Linked DNA regions of Homo sapiens: region 1 is linked to region 2. The links come from fine-mapping of genetic effects on gene expression. Tissue or cell type: tibial artery. Region 2 holds a variant in brackets; the other region holds the start of a gene. All regions are shown on one strand. Distances are from middle to middle.

Region 1 (8,091 bases), 880 kb before region 2:
TATGTATTACCTCAATGTGTAAAAACATCCACCCCGTTTGTCATAGAGGATATAACACTATTTGTACCAACCATCCGCTACCCTTTGTCAAAATGACTACTGAGCAGCTATAACCTAGCCTAATAATCTTAACCTTTCTTCTTACTTCTTTAAAAGCCCTGCCAATCAGGAAAAAAAAAAAAAAAACTGGCAAGAACTAGACCTTAGGAATTGAACAGTGACAAGAAGTTAAAAAATGGTTCAATATTAAAATATTATTTTATTTTAAAGCCCAATCTTTCAGAAAGCTTCTTAGTATAGCTTTGAGCCTTCAACGTCAACATGTAAGTCAAATATTTAAGTTAAATATTAACATCAAGTTAAGCATACTAGATTAAAAGGTACTCTGAACCCACCCACCAGGTTATACATACTCTCACTCAATCATGTAAAGAATTGAATTCTTTATTTGTGATATCCATAAACGTTGCTATTCTCTATTTCTATCCAGAAAGGCAATTTTCACCTATTATCACTTTTGTTCTTCTCTTATAAACAACAACTTGAATGCTATTGCAGGAAAGGGCTACAAATATACATTTGTTAACCAAGCAGAATACACAGATATTTTGCTTTACAACTTGCACCTAAAATACCAGTATACGTAGCTGGTTCATTAGTTGTCATAGCAATTTAGGGCTATTGCCCAAGCTATGCATAGCAGTTTACATTTTCAAACCTCATATAGAAAGGGCTATTGTGATATGAACTGGCAACTACATTCCTGTGAAGCCCATCTCAGTTACAAGCAAATGTGTTAACTTCCAATTCTGCAAAGAATTTTGATGGCAAAACTTCCAAATCTGATGCAATTGTCTTAAGCAAGTTTTTAAACAAATTGTTTCGCAGCTACTCTGCCATTCTGCCAGTAGATGGTGCTACAAAGATCGGGAAAGGGATTTCCATGAGGCCAACAGTTCGGATATAGGAAAAAAAAAAAAAAAACGTTTAAACCTGCTCTGAAAGTACAAAAACGCATTTGAGGGTAAAATATAACCCTTATTTTTAACCATTCATTACAGACAAACCAGTAAGAGGGATGAAACTAGGCCATCTGAAAAATTTTAAACAGTTTATATGAATGACATGCTTAACACAAACTATATAGAACTACACAGTACACAGTTTGAAGTAAATTGTCATAGAAATGACCAACCATGTCAAGATGATAAACAATTCGCTTAGTACAAGAGATGGATGCACAGAAACTTAAGAGTTTAAAAAGCCACATCCACCACTTCAAAAGTTTTGCCTGTAAGGGATATAATTCAACACGCAACTAGCAGGGCAACAGGAGAGGGGAAAAAAACCACAGGACCTCTTAAGTTTCTCTAAGTACACATCAAGAATAAAGAATTAACACGTAAAGTCTTAAACAAATATCCCTTAAAAAACGGTACGGAATGGATCCTAGAAAAAAAATGTTAGACATGTACGGTCAAACACAATGATTTATTAAAAATAAAACGTAAAAATGATTTTTGTACATATGCTTCCAAATTTCAGGCATGGGATCCAAGTAGATTTCATAGAAAACGCTGTAGCCAGGTTATCAAGTCCTTACAACAAAGTAAACTACCCCCCACCCCAACCCCCACCCAGGTTTTGCTACAGAATCAGCAAGTTCACTCCCTCCCTCCCCCCAAAAAACACAAATTAAAACAAGACATTTTGCTAGTATAAAAACGACCAAGGTCCAAGTAATAATAAAAAAATAGAGTCCATCAATGACTGTAACACAAAAATGTGTATGTGGGGCCGAGTCCATCTTCAGAGGGAGAGACAAGAGAGGTGGCAGGCAAATAGAGGAACACCCCCAAGGGTAAGCAGCCTTAGAAGTGGCTCCCCCAAGGGCAAAACAGGGAAGGCGGTGTGTGTGAGGGGGTGGGGCTTAGGAGTTGACCCCACTTGGGCTGTTGGAAAGAGCTACCCCTATAGCCACTCCCAGGCATTTTAAATTTTCTTTTAGAAGGAGCTGCCTCCATAGCCACCCCCACCGCCATAGCCGCCTCTGTAAGGTCCACTATTACTGCGACCGCCCCAGCTACTGCCTCCACCGCCGCCGCCGCCGCCGCTCTTCATGGGCCCATAGGAGGACTGATGCTGGCTGTAGCTGCCGAAGCCGCCGAAGCCGTTACCGTAGTCGCTCCCACCGTAGGACGAACCGCCGCCGCCGCCTCCGTAGGCATTGTAGCCGCCGCCTCCGCCGCCGCCGTAACCACCGTAGCTGTTGTAACCGCCGCCGCCGCCCTTGGAAAGGCCGTTCTGGTCTCGACCACCGCCGCGCCCCCGGCCGCCTCGGCCGCCCCGGGAGGATCGGGAGCCGCCTCCACCCCCACCGGAGTAGATATCCTCCTTGGGGACTGCTTTCTTCACCTCCACGCGATGGCCCTGAATCGGATGGAACTTGACCACCGCGGCCTTGTCTGCCGCGTCGTGATTCTGGAAATACACGAAGCCGAATCCACGCTTCTTGCCGGACTGCTTGTCGGCAATAATCTCGGCCTTTTCCACGGTGCCAAACTGCGAGAAGTGCTCGATCAGGTCGCCCTCAGCCACGTCTCCTTTAAGGCCTCCGACAAAGAGCTTCTTAACCTTGGCGTGGGCACCGGGCCGCGCCGAATCCTCCCGGGACACCGCCCGCTTCAGCTCCACAGTGTTGCCGTCCACGGCATGGGGCGAGGCGGCCATGGCGGCGTCCGCCTCCTCCACATTGGAGTAGGTCACGAAGCCAAAGCAACGGGAGCGCTTGGTCTGGGGATTCACCACCACCACGCAGTCCGTCAGAGTCCCAAAGGCCTCAAAGTGGCCGCGCAGGCCCGACTCACTCGTCTGCACATTGAGGCCGCCGATGAACAGCTTACACAACTGAGAATTCTCCATCTCCAAGGCCCGGGCCTTGCCCCCGCCCTGCGAGCTCCGAGGTTTCGCCGTCGCCGCCGTTATCGTTGGTTAAGGCCTCTACACAGCTTGGGCCCAGCCGTTGCTGGAGCCACCCCCGCCGCTCACCGACGGGGAAGGGAAAAAGGGAAGGGGAGGGAAGGAAGGAAGAGAGGAAGGGGGAGGGAAGGGGAGCGGTGCCGGCTAAAGGGCGAGCCGAGGAGACTGGAAGACAACCAAGGCCACCGCTACCGCCGCCGCCGCCACCTCCGCTCCCCTATCTGGGCACCACACAAAGAGGCCGCTGAACGCGCGCGCACCCTCCCCGAGGCGTGCGTCACCGCCGACGTACGGCAGCCTAGGGCTACCAGCCAATCCCCGCCTCGCTCCCCTTAATCCCGCCTACCGCGCCGCAGCGCCGCTCTAGATCACGGACTCCCCGCCCTCCGCGGTCTATTCAAGCCCGCGGCCTGTGCCGCTCCCGCTTCCGCTTCTGCCAGCCCACTTTCATTCCCGAGCGCCCCACTGTCCCTTGACATGGGTCCCTCCCTGCCCTCCGCGCACCACCGCGATTCATTTCCTCCTAGCACCGCGGCTGTTCCCAGTGTTTCTCCCCCTCCCCTTTACTCATCCCCTCGCCCAACTCCGCAGTGGCGTTCGCGCCAGCCCCTTGAGAGACATCTGAGTTCAGCCAATCACCGTGATCCCCTCGCACCCACTTCCGTTTTCGGCAGCTGTTGGACGGGCGCGCTCCCCGGTGCGCGCTTGCCCCGGCGCCCCCGGCGTGCAGAGCCGGCCTACCACCCCCGCGCCTTCTCCCGCCCAGGGCTTTGCCGGGGAGAGAGCAGGGGGCGCGCTGGGGGCCATTCCCAACGGATGCGGTCTGGGGCGCCACGCGCGGGCTTTTTGAAAACTTGACTGTTGGGGTTGGGGGCCCGGATCTACCCGCCGCCTCTCCGCTTGTCCGCTACACCTGGCGTCCCCGCCCCACCTCCCGCCCGCACAAAGATGGAGGGCAGAGGCCTGGTCCACGAAGGCGGTTATTAACCGTTTACAGTGGGCCCGACGTGCGGTTAAACTAAAACTTTGCCACGTGGCCCTGCGCAAAAGCGAGCCCGAGGCGGCGGTGTGAAAGACAACAGGGAACCAAAAGAACTTCAGACATTAGGAACCAGACGAGGCGCGACATCCCTGCCTCCCTGCCACCCTCCCGCCCTCCTTGAAGCCCTCCCACGATGCCCTCTCAGAGGAGGCCCTTTCAGGTCCCCTTGGCACACTCCAGCAGACATTTTCATTTAACCTCAGTGAATGGTTTTTTATGTGTAATTTACATCATCTATGTGTTGCTTTCTTTGAACTAGAATGTTAGCTTTTTTGTTGTTGTTGAGATGGAGTTTCACTCTTGTTGCCCAGGCTGTAGTGCACTGGCGCAATCTCGGCTCAGCAACCTCCGCCTCCTGGGTTCAAGCTGTTCTCCTGCCTCAGCCTCCTGAGTAGCTGAGATTACAGGCGCCCACCACCACACCCGGCTAATTTTTGTATTTTAGCAGAGATGGGGTTTCACCATGTTGGTCAGACTGGTCTCAAACTCCTGACCTTAGGTGATCCATCTGCCTCGGCCTCCCAAAGTGCTGGGTTACAGGCGTGAGCCACCGCGCCTGGCCTAGAATGTTAACTTTGCTTTTTTTTTTTTTTTTTTGAGACGGAGTCTTGCCTAAGCTGGAATGCAATGGCACGATCTTGGTTCACTGCAACCTCCACCTCCCGGGTTCAAGCGATTCTCCTGCCTCAGCCTCCCAAGTAGCTGGGACTACAGGCGGGCACCACCACACCTGGCTAATGTTTGTATTTTTAGTGGAGACGGGATTTCACCATGTTGGTCAGGATGGTCTCAAACTCGTGACCTAGTGATCTGCCCGCCTCGGCCTCCCAAAAGTAGAATGTTAGCTTTTTAAAGATGTTGGGTTAGACGAATGTTTTACAGAGAGAGAGATCATATACCCCTAAGTTACTGCTTTTAGTGCCCTCACTCAGATGGGAATGGAAGAAAATTACAATGGCTTCCATTTATTGAGCCTTTGTGTGCCAAGCAAGATAAATGGGGTGGGACATAGTTAATATGAGGCATTACGTGACCAAAAGCCTCCAAAACCATATGGTAAACGCTGAAGAAGTTAAGAGGAATTCCTCACTGTATCCTCAAGTATTCAGGAAAGATTTAGGAAAGAATTGGAAGTTGCACTGAACCTCAGAGCCAAAGACTAGTTAGTATCCTAAGCAAATTAAGGCTGGAACAGAAAACCAAATACCACAAGTTCTCACTTATAAGTGGGAGCTACACATTGAGTACACATGGACACAAAAGAAGGGAACATTAGACATCAGGTCTTTTTTAAGGATGGAGGGTGGGAGGAGGGTGAGGACTAAAAAGCTACCTATCAGGTATTATGCTGATGACTTGGGTGACAAAATTATCTATACACCAAACCCCCAAGACTAACAATTTACCCACATAACAAACCTCCACGCGTATCCCTTGAACCTAAAATAAAAGTTGGAAAGGAAAAAAAAAAAGATTTCTGTAGGGAGTTTATTTGAGCAAAATCCAGAGGGAACATAAGCTTCAAGAGACAGGGAGTGGGCCAGTTAGTTTGAGAGAAGCAGGCAGTTTTAGATAGAAAATAGTGAGAGGTAAGATAGGTTGAGGGTCTTTGGTACTATGAAATGATACTATGGAATGTGCTGAATCTTAGGTTAAGTAGTTTGGATACTGTAACAAAGGTAAATAGATGGGCTAAGGTTTGAGGGTAAACTAGTCTGATCTATCACTTACCCTGTAACCATTCAGTTATGTGACTTTGGCTAAGTTACTTAACCTTTTAAAAAAATGTAATCAGTTTTATTATCTTAAAATGGGAATAATAAAACATCTTTCTGTTGTAGTGAAAATTAAATAAGATTCTACATGTAAACATGTATACATGCCTGGTACACAGTAAGTGCTCAGTTTATCCAATTATATGAATCCTATGCCTGGTGCTGGCAATATGGCTGTAAACAACAGACAAAAACCTCTGCCCTCATGATGCTTACATTCTAGTGGGAAGAAGCAGACAATAAACAAATAAGAGTGGTATATGGCATGTTAGATAGTGATAAATGACATTAAAAAAATGAAAGAGGACAGTAGAAAGCTATTAACCTTGTTATTACAAAAAAAATTCAAATGTCAGGATTTGCCTATTGATAATAAAGAAAGGGGAAAATGGGCTGGGCACAGTGGCTCGTGCCTGTAATCCCTGCACTGTGGGGGGGCTGAGGCAGGCGGATCACTTGAGGTCAGGAGCTCAAGACCAGCATGGCTAACAAATTGAAACCCCGTGTGTGGTGGCGCATGCCTGTAGTCCCAGCTACTTGGGAGGCTGAAGCAGGAGAATTGCTTGAACCCAGAAGGCAGATGCTGCTGTTGTTAGCTGAGATGGCACCACTGTTTCAGAGTCATCCAAATCTTAAAACAGTAAAAGATGAACTCCTGAAGGAATAAAGACCATAACTTATGAAAACTGTTACTTTAGGAATTTACAATTTTGGTAGATAGTTTTTGCCTACATTGTTTTTAAATAATAGTTTACCAGCAGTGCCCAACTTTTCTGGCACAAGAGACCTATTTTGTGAAAAACAATTTTTCCACAGACCAGGATGTAGTTTCAGGATGATTCAAGTGCATTACATTTAATGTGCACTTTATTTCTATTATTATTGCATCATAATATTCAATGAAATATAATAATTATACAACTCACCGTAACGTAGAATCAGTGGAAGGCTTGAGCTTGTTTTCCCGCAACTAGCCGGTTCCCATCTGGGGGTGATGGGAGACAGTGACACCCGAAGTGTGTTGCTTATGTCCAGTTTACTCCATAATCTAGTTTTGGTTGCTGTCACTGCAGAAAACCCTGCTTCACAAATATAGGATGCTGGAAATGGAAGCAGGCTTTTCAGTGCTTTTGTGGCAATCTCAGGATATTCCATCCAGAATGTATGGAGATTTGAAGTTGTCTCAAACATACAAGGCTGCCGTCACTTGCAATCTCAAGCAGTTGATCCTCTTCTAGTATCGACAAAGTCAATTCTTCTGGCTTATTCACAAATGGGTGGTGGATCCATTCCTTCCCAGCTCAGGGATTTTTTTGTGGTTGGCAAGTAAAGCTCAAACTCTTTTGAAAGCTGAGCTAGGTGATCATGCAGCAGCTGGGAGAAAGAAGGCGTTGGCTCAGTCACTTTCAAAATCTCTGCTAATGTTTGAAACATGTCAGAAATCCCAATGTTCACTCATCGCCCCCATAACTCCAGTTTGGTTTTCAATGCAGCCCCTTTATCTGCTGATTTGAACACAGTTGTCATTCTCCCCTGAAGTGACAGATTGAATTCACTGAGCAGGTTGAATGTGTCACACAAGTAAACAAGTTTTGCCACCCATTCTATGTCACTGAAATGTGCTGCTAGTGGTGACTGTTTTTGTAAAAGAAATCTCTGGAGTGGCTCTCATAACTCAAAAATTCTGGCCAGTTATCTACCTTTAGAAAGCCATCTCATTTCTTATACACATCTCACAGAGTTGCGCAAACAGACATTGAGTTAAGGGCATGCACTTTAATGTCATTGATAATTTTAATCACATCCTGTAAAACCTTAAGTTCGGGTGACAATTTTCGGCTACCCGGCATTTCTCTGTAGATGACACAGTGCATAGACTCACATTCAGAAGTGACCTCTTTGACCTGAGTAGTGAAACCAGAAAGCCATCCAGTCATATCAGCCACTCTGTCTGTGCATATACTGACACAAAATGACCAATTCCGTTTTTCTGATATGTAATCAAAGTCTTGAATAGTTCTGCACCTGTGGTGTTGGTTGGCAACAAAAGTGCACATAACATATTCCCCTGCACATCCTCCTGAAAAAGATATGGCACAAAAACAAGCATTGTTGTCTTGTCAACATCAGTAGACTCATTAACCTGGATTGCATACCATGGTGACTCATTAATCCTAACAATTGTGCCCCAATATCCTCTGTATTTCATCACTTTGTCTAGTTATGGTACTAGCCGAAAAAGGAACATGTGTCACCTTTTGAACTTCAGCCTCTCCTAAAAGTTCATGATAAATG
Region 2 (8,103 bases):
GGGGCAGTGTCCAGGGTTCTGTCTGCTGAGACCCTCCCTCGCTGGAGAAAGGAGCACTTGGTGGGCTTCTCATCAGGAAAGAGGAGATGGTTGAGCTGCATCTCTACTGAAAACTCCAGAGTTCATCTGGGAGGGCTCCTTTTTCTCCAGCCATCAGTTTTCTGACTAGCAATGCTCATTGTGTGCTGTGTAGGGCTGGCCTGGTTCCTCTTCCTTATAGCAGCCCCCTGCCTCCTCCAAAGCCAGTGCCTGTGTTAATACGATAATGCCATGACAGTGGCCAGGAGATGGTTTTACCTAACTGATTAGGCCCTCTGGAGTGGCATCTGGGGCACAGGCTTAATTCTCCCTGGCAAGGAGGCAGCCAGGGCCCAGGGCTGGAGAGCACAAGGCACTGGCTGGGAAATTGCATCTGGGAGAGCACTGAGGGGGAAAATTGGAAGTATCAGAACTTCCCAGGTTGCTATTCCACAGAGGCCAAACATTGTTAGCAGCAGCACTAATTATGATCCAGGAGAGTCAGGCCTGGCTGCCTAGCCTGCCAAGGCAGTCCTTGAGAGCGGCCTTGGGAGCCAGTAGGGCAGAGGCAGAGATGCAGGCAGGCTGGGGCTCTCAGCAACAGGGTGAATTTGGGAGAGGAAAAACTGCAGAGCCTTTCAGACCCATGTGGAAGGGGAGCTGGATAGACTGAGTTGCTGGGTGCCTTCATGTCCTTTAGAAGGCTTAGAACTATGATAGGAAGGGTGGAAATTAGATGCTTTAATGATTTCTACCTGCCAGGAATTAAGAATCGTCTGTATTTGTCTCCACTTCCTCTCTTCCCATCCCTGCTTGTCCTCAGTGCTCCAAGGCAAATTCTCTTGTCAATGTCACCAGTGATTTCCATGTTGCTAATTTCAGCTGTCATTTCTGAGTCCCCATTTTACTCATCCTGGCAGTGGCATTTGACATGGATGGTTTCTTCATAAAACACTCTCTTCCTTTGGCCTCCATGACACGCCCAGTTCTCCTACCTCCATCATCTCCTGGGCTGGCTCCTCACCTCCCCATCACTGGATGCCTCAGGGCTGTCCTTACGCCTCTGTTCTTCTTCATCCATCCTCACTCCCTAACTAATTCCATCTTCTCTGGACTTTAAAGCCAGCTATGTTGATAGGTCGTGGTCATATCCAGCGGCTACTTGCCATCCCCATGTGAGTCTCTCTTATAGTCCTCTCAAACTCAGCAGTCCCTCAGTCTTCCCCAGGGCAATAAATGCAAATCTGTTCTACCAGAGCCCCAATCTTGGAGTCATTCCTGGTTCTTCTCTTCCTTTCATGTCCCCTTATCCAATCCCTTGGGAAATGCTATCAAGTTCTACCCTTTAAATTATCTCCAGAATCTGGTCACTTATACCCAGTTACACCACTATCACCCTCATCAGAACCACCCGCTGTCACTGTTTGCCTGAGAAATTACAATAGCCTTTGAATTAGGTACAATACAGGCCATCGTGGTGGCTCATGCCTGTAATTCCAGCCAAGACAGGCAGATCACTTGAGGCCAGGAGTTCAAAACTGGCTTGGGCAACATGACAAAATCCCATCTCTACTAAAAAATACAAAAATTAGTCAGGCATGGGGGCGCGTGCCTGTGATCCCAGCTACTTGGGAGGCTGAGGCATGAGACTCGGTTGAACCCAGGAGGCAGAGGTTGCAGTGAGCCGAGATCACACCAGCCTGGGTAAGAGAGTGAGACTCTCCCTCAAAAAAAGAATTAGGGGCCGAGCACAGTGGCTCATGCCTGTAATCCCAGCACTTTGGGAGGTCAAGGTGGGCGGATCACAATATCAGGAGATCGAGACCATTTTCTATTAAAATTGTATATATTATTTGAGCTGTACAATGCAATGTTTTGGTATCTGTATGCATTGTGAAATGATTACCACAATCAAACTAATGAACATATCCATCACCTCACGCATTTACCTTTTTTAGTTCATGTTCTTTTTTTTTTTTTTGAGACTGAGTCTCGCTCTATCACCCGGCTGGAGGGCAGTGGCACGATCTTGGCTCACCGCAACCTCCACCTCCCGGGTTCAAGCAATTCCCCTGCCTCAGCCTCCGGAGTAGCTGCGATTACAGGCGCCTGCCGCCACGCCCGGCTAATTTTTGTATTTTTAGTAAAGATGGGGTTTCACCACCCTGGCCAGGCTGGTCTTGAACTCCTGACCTCGTGATCCGCCTGCCTTGGCCTCCCAGAGTGCTGGGATTACAGGCATAGTCCACCACGCCCGGCCTGCTCACATCCTTTTTGCTGGCATTTTGTCACATGGCTGCGCTTAGTTGCAAGGGAGGTTGGGAAATGTAGTCCTTTTTCTGAGCAGCCATGTCGCCCGCTAAAATGTGGAAGGAAAGGATGAATTTGAGGGGAAAACTCCTTGCTCTGCCATAGTCTCCTAAGTGGTTTTCTTCTTTCTGCTCTGCCCCCTACAGGTTGTTCTAAACACAGCAGCCAGAGTAATCCCGTTAAATCAGAACGTGTCACTTTTCTGTGTAGAACCTTCTAAAGACCTCCCCCCTCACTCAGAAAGAAATCTAAAATCCTTACCATGGTCTACAAGGCCCTACATAATCTGAGCACCAATTTCTCTCTGATTTCATATCCTACATCTTTCATCCTTACTCACTCCACTCCAGCCTCACTCACTCCACGCCTTGCAAAATACCCCCACCTCAGAGCTTTTGAAGCTGCTATACCCTCTGCCTGGAACATTCTTTCCCCAGATAGCTGAAAATGTGTCTCCTTCACTTCCTTTAGGATCCTGCTCAAATGCCACCCACTCAAAGAGGCTTTTCTTGGGCCCCATTCCCACCATCCCCATCCCCCTTACCATCCTTTGTTTTTCTCTGAGGCAATTAACATCACCTGAAATATTATATGTTTACTTACATTATATGTGTTTTTCCCACTAGAACATATGATCTAGGGTCCACATACAGCAGGTGTGCTCTACATGCTTGTGGAGTGAATGAACAGATGAAGACAGCAGTGCATGGGAACAAAGGCAGCAGAAGGCTGCTTCTTCCTTAGTCATTTCAGGAGGACCCATGTCTTGATTCCTGTTGTGGGTCCAATTTGGAAACAGACTCCTTAGTTTCTTGCTTCTAGGAGCTCCCTTGAGTTCAATTTATGAAATATTCATTAGACATCTAGTGCGTTTGTTACCTAGTATGGCAGATGTAGAAGGAAAATAAGCTATAGAGCACTATTGGCCCTTGGGAAACATATGGATTGGTTAGGAGCCTAGATTTTGTCCTTTTCTTTCTTTGCAAGTGTGACCATTCAGGTGTTGTGTAAAAGGCCAGGGAAAGAGTGGCTTCACTCTTTATGGAGGCACGATAAACTGGTATGGCCTGGGTAGGAAAGAGGGGAGGAGGCCGGGCGCAGTGGCTCACGTCTGTAATCCCAGCACTTTGGGAGGCCAAGGTGGGTGGATCACCTGAGGTTGGGAGTTCGAGATCAGCCTGACCAACATGGAGAAACCCCATCTCTACTAAAAATACAAAGTTAGCTGGGTGTGGTGGCGCATGCCTGTAATCCCTGCTACTCAGGAGGCTGAGGTAGGAGAATCGTTTGAACCAAAGAGGTGGAGGTTGCGGTGAGCTGAGACCGTGCCATTGCACTCCAGCCTGGGCGAGGGCAAAACTCCGTCTCAAAAAAAAAAAAAAAAAAAAAAAAAGGAAAGGGGGTGGGGTCTGAAGAGAGGCTGCCCCATTACAGGTTATAGTGTTTTTTTTCTCCCTCTTATTCCCTATGGAATAGGGCTTCGTTCCTTGCTGGTCTGCTTAAGAAACAGTTTGAGGCCGGGCACGGTGGCTCAGGCCTGTAATCCCAGCACTCTGGGAGGCCAAGGTGGGTGTTCACCTGAGGTCAGACATGGTGAAACCCTGAATCTACTAAAAATACAAAAATTAGCCAGGTGTGGTAGCAAGTGCCTGTAATACCAGCTACTTGGGAGGCTGAGGCAGGAGAATTGCTTGAACCAGGGAGGCAGAGGTCTCAGTGAGCCGAGATTGCGCCACTGTACTGCAGCCTGGGTGACAGAGCAAGACTCTGTCTCAAAAAAAGAAAGAAAGAGAGAGAGAAGGGAAAGAAAGAAAGAAGGAAAGAAAGAAAGAAAGAGAAAGAAAAAGAAAGGAAGGAAGGAAGAAAGGAAGGAGGGAGGGAGAGACAGAAAAAAGAAGAAAGAAAGAAAGAAAAGAAAGAAAGAAAAAAGAAACAGTTTGAACCAGTTCTCATTTGATGGAGGAGGGGGAAAGATAGACGGGGGTGGGGGTTGGGGTTGGGGGCTTGCGGGGGTGGGAAGGGGCCTGGCCAGAGGGCTGCAGAGGGCTGGTGGAAGAGAAGGAAAGGAGGGCTAGGCTTTAGGGGGCCCCAGCTGGAGGGAAAGGTAGCTGAGAAAAGCTGAGGCTGAGTAGGAGATAAATGACCTGAAAAGATTGCTCCATTATCCTTCCTTGCTCTGGGCAAAATGCAAAAGGTCATGCTTGGTTATTTTCCCCCC[A/C]ACTCCCTCCTCACAGGGCCACTTAGACACTGCTCTGACATTTACAGCCGCAGAGGATCAGAGGCCTCTTCTGAGGCCTGGCTCGAGATTTCCACATTGGGAAAGTTCCAGTTTCTTTTTTTCTTTGGATGAGGCTGCTTGCTGCATCCCTCATAATTCTTCCTTCTCTTGACATTCCCCTTCAGTCCGAGAGGGAGAGCCAAGAGCAGTGGTTCTCAAACTTGAAAGTGGATAAGAACCACTAGAAGGCTTGTTAAAACAAGTTTGGGCTGGGTGCAGTGGCTCACACCTGTAATCCCAACACTTTGGGAAGCTGAGGTGGGTAGATCACTTGAACCTAGGAGTTCGAGACCAGCCTGGGCAACATGGCAAAACCCCATCTCTACTAAAAATACCAAAAGATTACCCACACTTGGTGGCGTGTGCCTATGGTTACAGCTGCTCTGGAGGCTGAGGTGGGAGGATCACCTGAGCCCAGAAGGTCGAGGCTGCAGTGAGCTGTGTTCATGCCATTGCACTTTGGCCTGGGCAACAGAGTGAGACTGTCTCAAAAACAAACAAACAAAAAAACAAGTTTGCCTGATGCCACACCCAGAGCTGATTCAGTAGGTCTGGGGTAGGCCTGAGAGCTTACATTTCTAGCAAGTTCCCAGCTGATGCGGATGCCAATACTGCTGGTCCCAACCACGTTGGGAGAATCACTGACCTAAAGCAACTTGTTTGGGTCAAAAGATGTCCCTCATGATCTTCAGTCCTTTTCTCCAGCTCCCCAACCAAGGGGAAGTAGGCTTGAGTTATCACAAGAGTCATCCAAATTCAATGTCAAGGACTTCTTGACCATCAGGTTTATAGGACAAGGCAGTCCACAAAATCCCCCTCCCTCTAAATCTTTGAGAATCTCTTCCATTCTCATACACCTGGGTGAGTGAAGATCTGTTCTCCCCTGCCACAAACCCCACTGCCTGGACAGGGAATTCCCGGGACTTGAGAATGGCAGCAAGTGTGGCAGGTGGAAGATGGGAGGACAACAGATGCCGAGTAAGCAGAGGGAACCCCTCCCCTCCTACATGCTATTTCTTTGAGATTAAAATATTTGTTTCTTCCTGGGCTCTGGTCAAGCCCATATCTGGGAAAGCATTTATGCTTAATGTCCTCAACCCATTAGCAACCCGGCATGGGGCTCTACTAATCAGGGTCCTTAATGGCAGCACCGTGAAGAGTGAGGCTGTAAGTGACTGCACCTGCTTCCCAGCCTCAGCTGGAGAGGAAGTGTCTAGACAAGACCAGAGACTAGGTAGGCTCAGCGGTGGCCTGAGAATGATTCATGCCGGCTTAGGAGGCTGATCTGACCTAATGATAACCTGTCCTCCCACCTCCAGTTTGGTAGGGGTGCAGAGGAGGCTCCCTGGTTACCTTGGCTGAAGTAGCAAGACCCCCCAGTCCTACTCAGCCTCCTCTTCTCTCCTCAAATTACAGAACATTGGCCTCCTTTAGAGCATGTTCTTCTCCCAGCATCCAGCATTTATTGAGCACCTCTATGTGCAAAGGACTCCTTCCCGCACCAACTGCTTTTCATTTCAAAATCCACAAGCTCGTACTTGAGTCTGTCACCAAATAGGGGGTGAGGGCCTTTGACCTGGAATCTAGGGGATACCTAGGGATCCTCTAGTGCTCAGACTGTGTGGGCTGCACCTTCTGCAGCCACTCTTGATGAGTTGGGTTCTTTGGCTTTGATCTACAGAGGGAGTATTTGGAGAGCCCTTATTTAAGAGTAACCAGATATTCTAAGGATCAAGGCCAGTCTCGAAGTATTTGCCTCTTGCTTCTCTTGACATGATGTGTTTGGTCCTTGCTGCAGACTAAGTGTCCCCAACTAAATGTGTATGTTAAAACCCCACCCCTCAATGTGATGATATTAGGAGGTGGGGACTTTCGGAGGTAATTAGGATTAGATGAGGTCATTGGGGCCCTCATGAATGAGATTAGTGCCCTCATTCATGAACGGGGCTAGGCATGGTGGCTCATACCTGTAATACCAGCATTTCAGGAGCCCAGCGCAGGAGGATTGCTTGAGGCCAGGCGTTGGAGGCTGCAGTGAGCTATTTGTGCTACTACACTCAGCCAGGGTGACAGAGCAAGACCTGGTCTCTAAAACCAGAGTCCTGAGAGAGCTTGCTGCTTCTTGCTTGCCTCCTCTCTCTGTGCTCAGCCAGCTGAGGATACAATTAGAAGCTGGCCATCTGAAGGAAGAAGAAGGCCCCACCCAGAAGTTGATTCCGATCTTGGATTTCCAGTCTCCAGAACTGTGAGAAATTAATTTCTGGTCAGGTACAGTGGCTCACGCCTGTAATCCCAACACTTTGGGAGGCCAAGGCAGGCAGATCACTTGAGGCTAGGAGTTCAAGACCAGCATGGCCAACATGGTGAAACCCTGTCTCTATTAAAAATACAAAAATTAGCTGGGCATGGTGGTGCACACCTGTAATCCCAGCTACTTGGGAGGCTGAGGCAAGAGAATTGCTTGAACCTGGAAGGCAGAGGTTGCAGTGAGCCAAGATGGCGCCACTGCACTCCAGCTTGGGCCACAGAGTGAGACTCTCTCTCAAAAAAAAAAAAAAAGAAAAAGAAAAAGAAAAAAAAATCTGTTGTTTATAAGCCACTCCATTTACAGTATTTTGTTATAGAAGCCTGAACTGACTAAGGCAGTTCCACTAGACAACTCAAACCACTGCAGCTCTCCCAGATTCTGGAAAGGAAAGATATCCCACTCCACCCCCACTCAATGAAACACTTGAGACAGGAGGTGAGTTTCTGCTTCAGAAGGACATGGAGTCATGCTTTAAAAAGGACTATAGAAAAAACAAACAGGCTGGGTGCAGTGGCTCATGCCTGTAACCCTAACACTTTGGGAGGCCAAGAAAGGCCGATCACTTGAGCCCAGGAGTTTCAGACCAGCCTGGCTAATGTGCTGAAACCCCGTCTCTACTAAAAATACAAAAATTAGCCAGGCGTGGGTGTGCGTGCCTACAATCCCAGCTATTCAGGAGGCTAAGGCAGGAGAATTGCTTGAACCTAGAAGGTGGAGGTTGCAGTGAGCTGAGATTACACCACTGCACTCCAGGCTGGGCAGCAGAGCGAGACTCCATTTCAAAAAAAAGAAAAAACAAACAGATTGGGTGCAGTGCCTCATACTCTTGATCCCAGCACTTTGGGAGGCCGAGGTGGGCAGATTGCTTGTGCTCAGGAGTTTGAGATCAGCCTGGGCAACATGGCAAAAACCCATCTCTACAAAAAACACAAAAAAATTAGCCAGGTGTGGTGGTGCACACCTGTGGTCCCAGCTACTTGGGAAGCTGAAGCATGAGGCTCACTTGAGCCCAGGAGGCGGAGGTTGCAAACAACATAAGAGAAACAACATAAGAGAAACCATCAAGTGCCAGTGACTGGTTCTTGTTCATTCTCCCCTCGTTTATGGGAACTTCAGAGCCTGGAAGAGGTAGAGCACCTCTAAGGGGGACACCACACAAAGCCACCACACTAAGCCACCACTGTCATCA

Which allele goes with the higher level. Alleles are on the strand shown, and positions count from the first base shown. SD is a standard deviation of normalised expression in the study named.
For the expression in tibial artery of the gene that starts at base 3,219 in region 1, A is the low allele of the variant in region 2 and C is the other (small effect, 0.15 SD a copy in GTEx).

The links. PIP is the estimated chance that this variant, and not a neighbour inherited with it, causes the effect.
Region 1: it holds the start of HNRNPA0, and the variant in region 2 is fine-mapped to the expression of HNRNPA0 in tibial artery (GTEx, PIP above 0.99).

Annotation. Positions count from the first base shown.
Region 1 is chr5:137,751,145-137,759,235 of GRCh38, forward strand. HNRNPA0 (heterogeneous nuclear ribonucleoprotein A0) reads right to left here and starts at 3,219. Exons shown (of 1, transcript NM_006805.4): 1 at 1-3,219. The coding sequence starts at 2,922. The coding sequence ends at 2,005. RefSeq lists enhancers at 1,878-2,569, 1,979-2,138, 2,649-2,998, 3,260-3,951, 7,416-7,535 and a silencer at 3,579-3,938.
Region 2 is chr5:138,630,850-138,638,952 of GRCh38, forward strand. No RefSeq gene overlaps it. Among named protein-coding and RNA genes, the nearest start is that of HSPA9, 60 kb to the left of the region's middle. The variant A/C (reference allele first, on the strand shown) is at 4,547.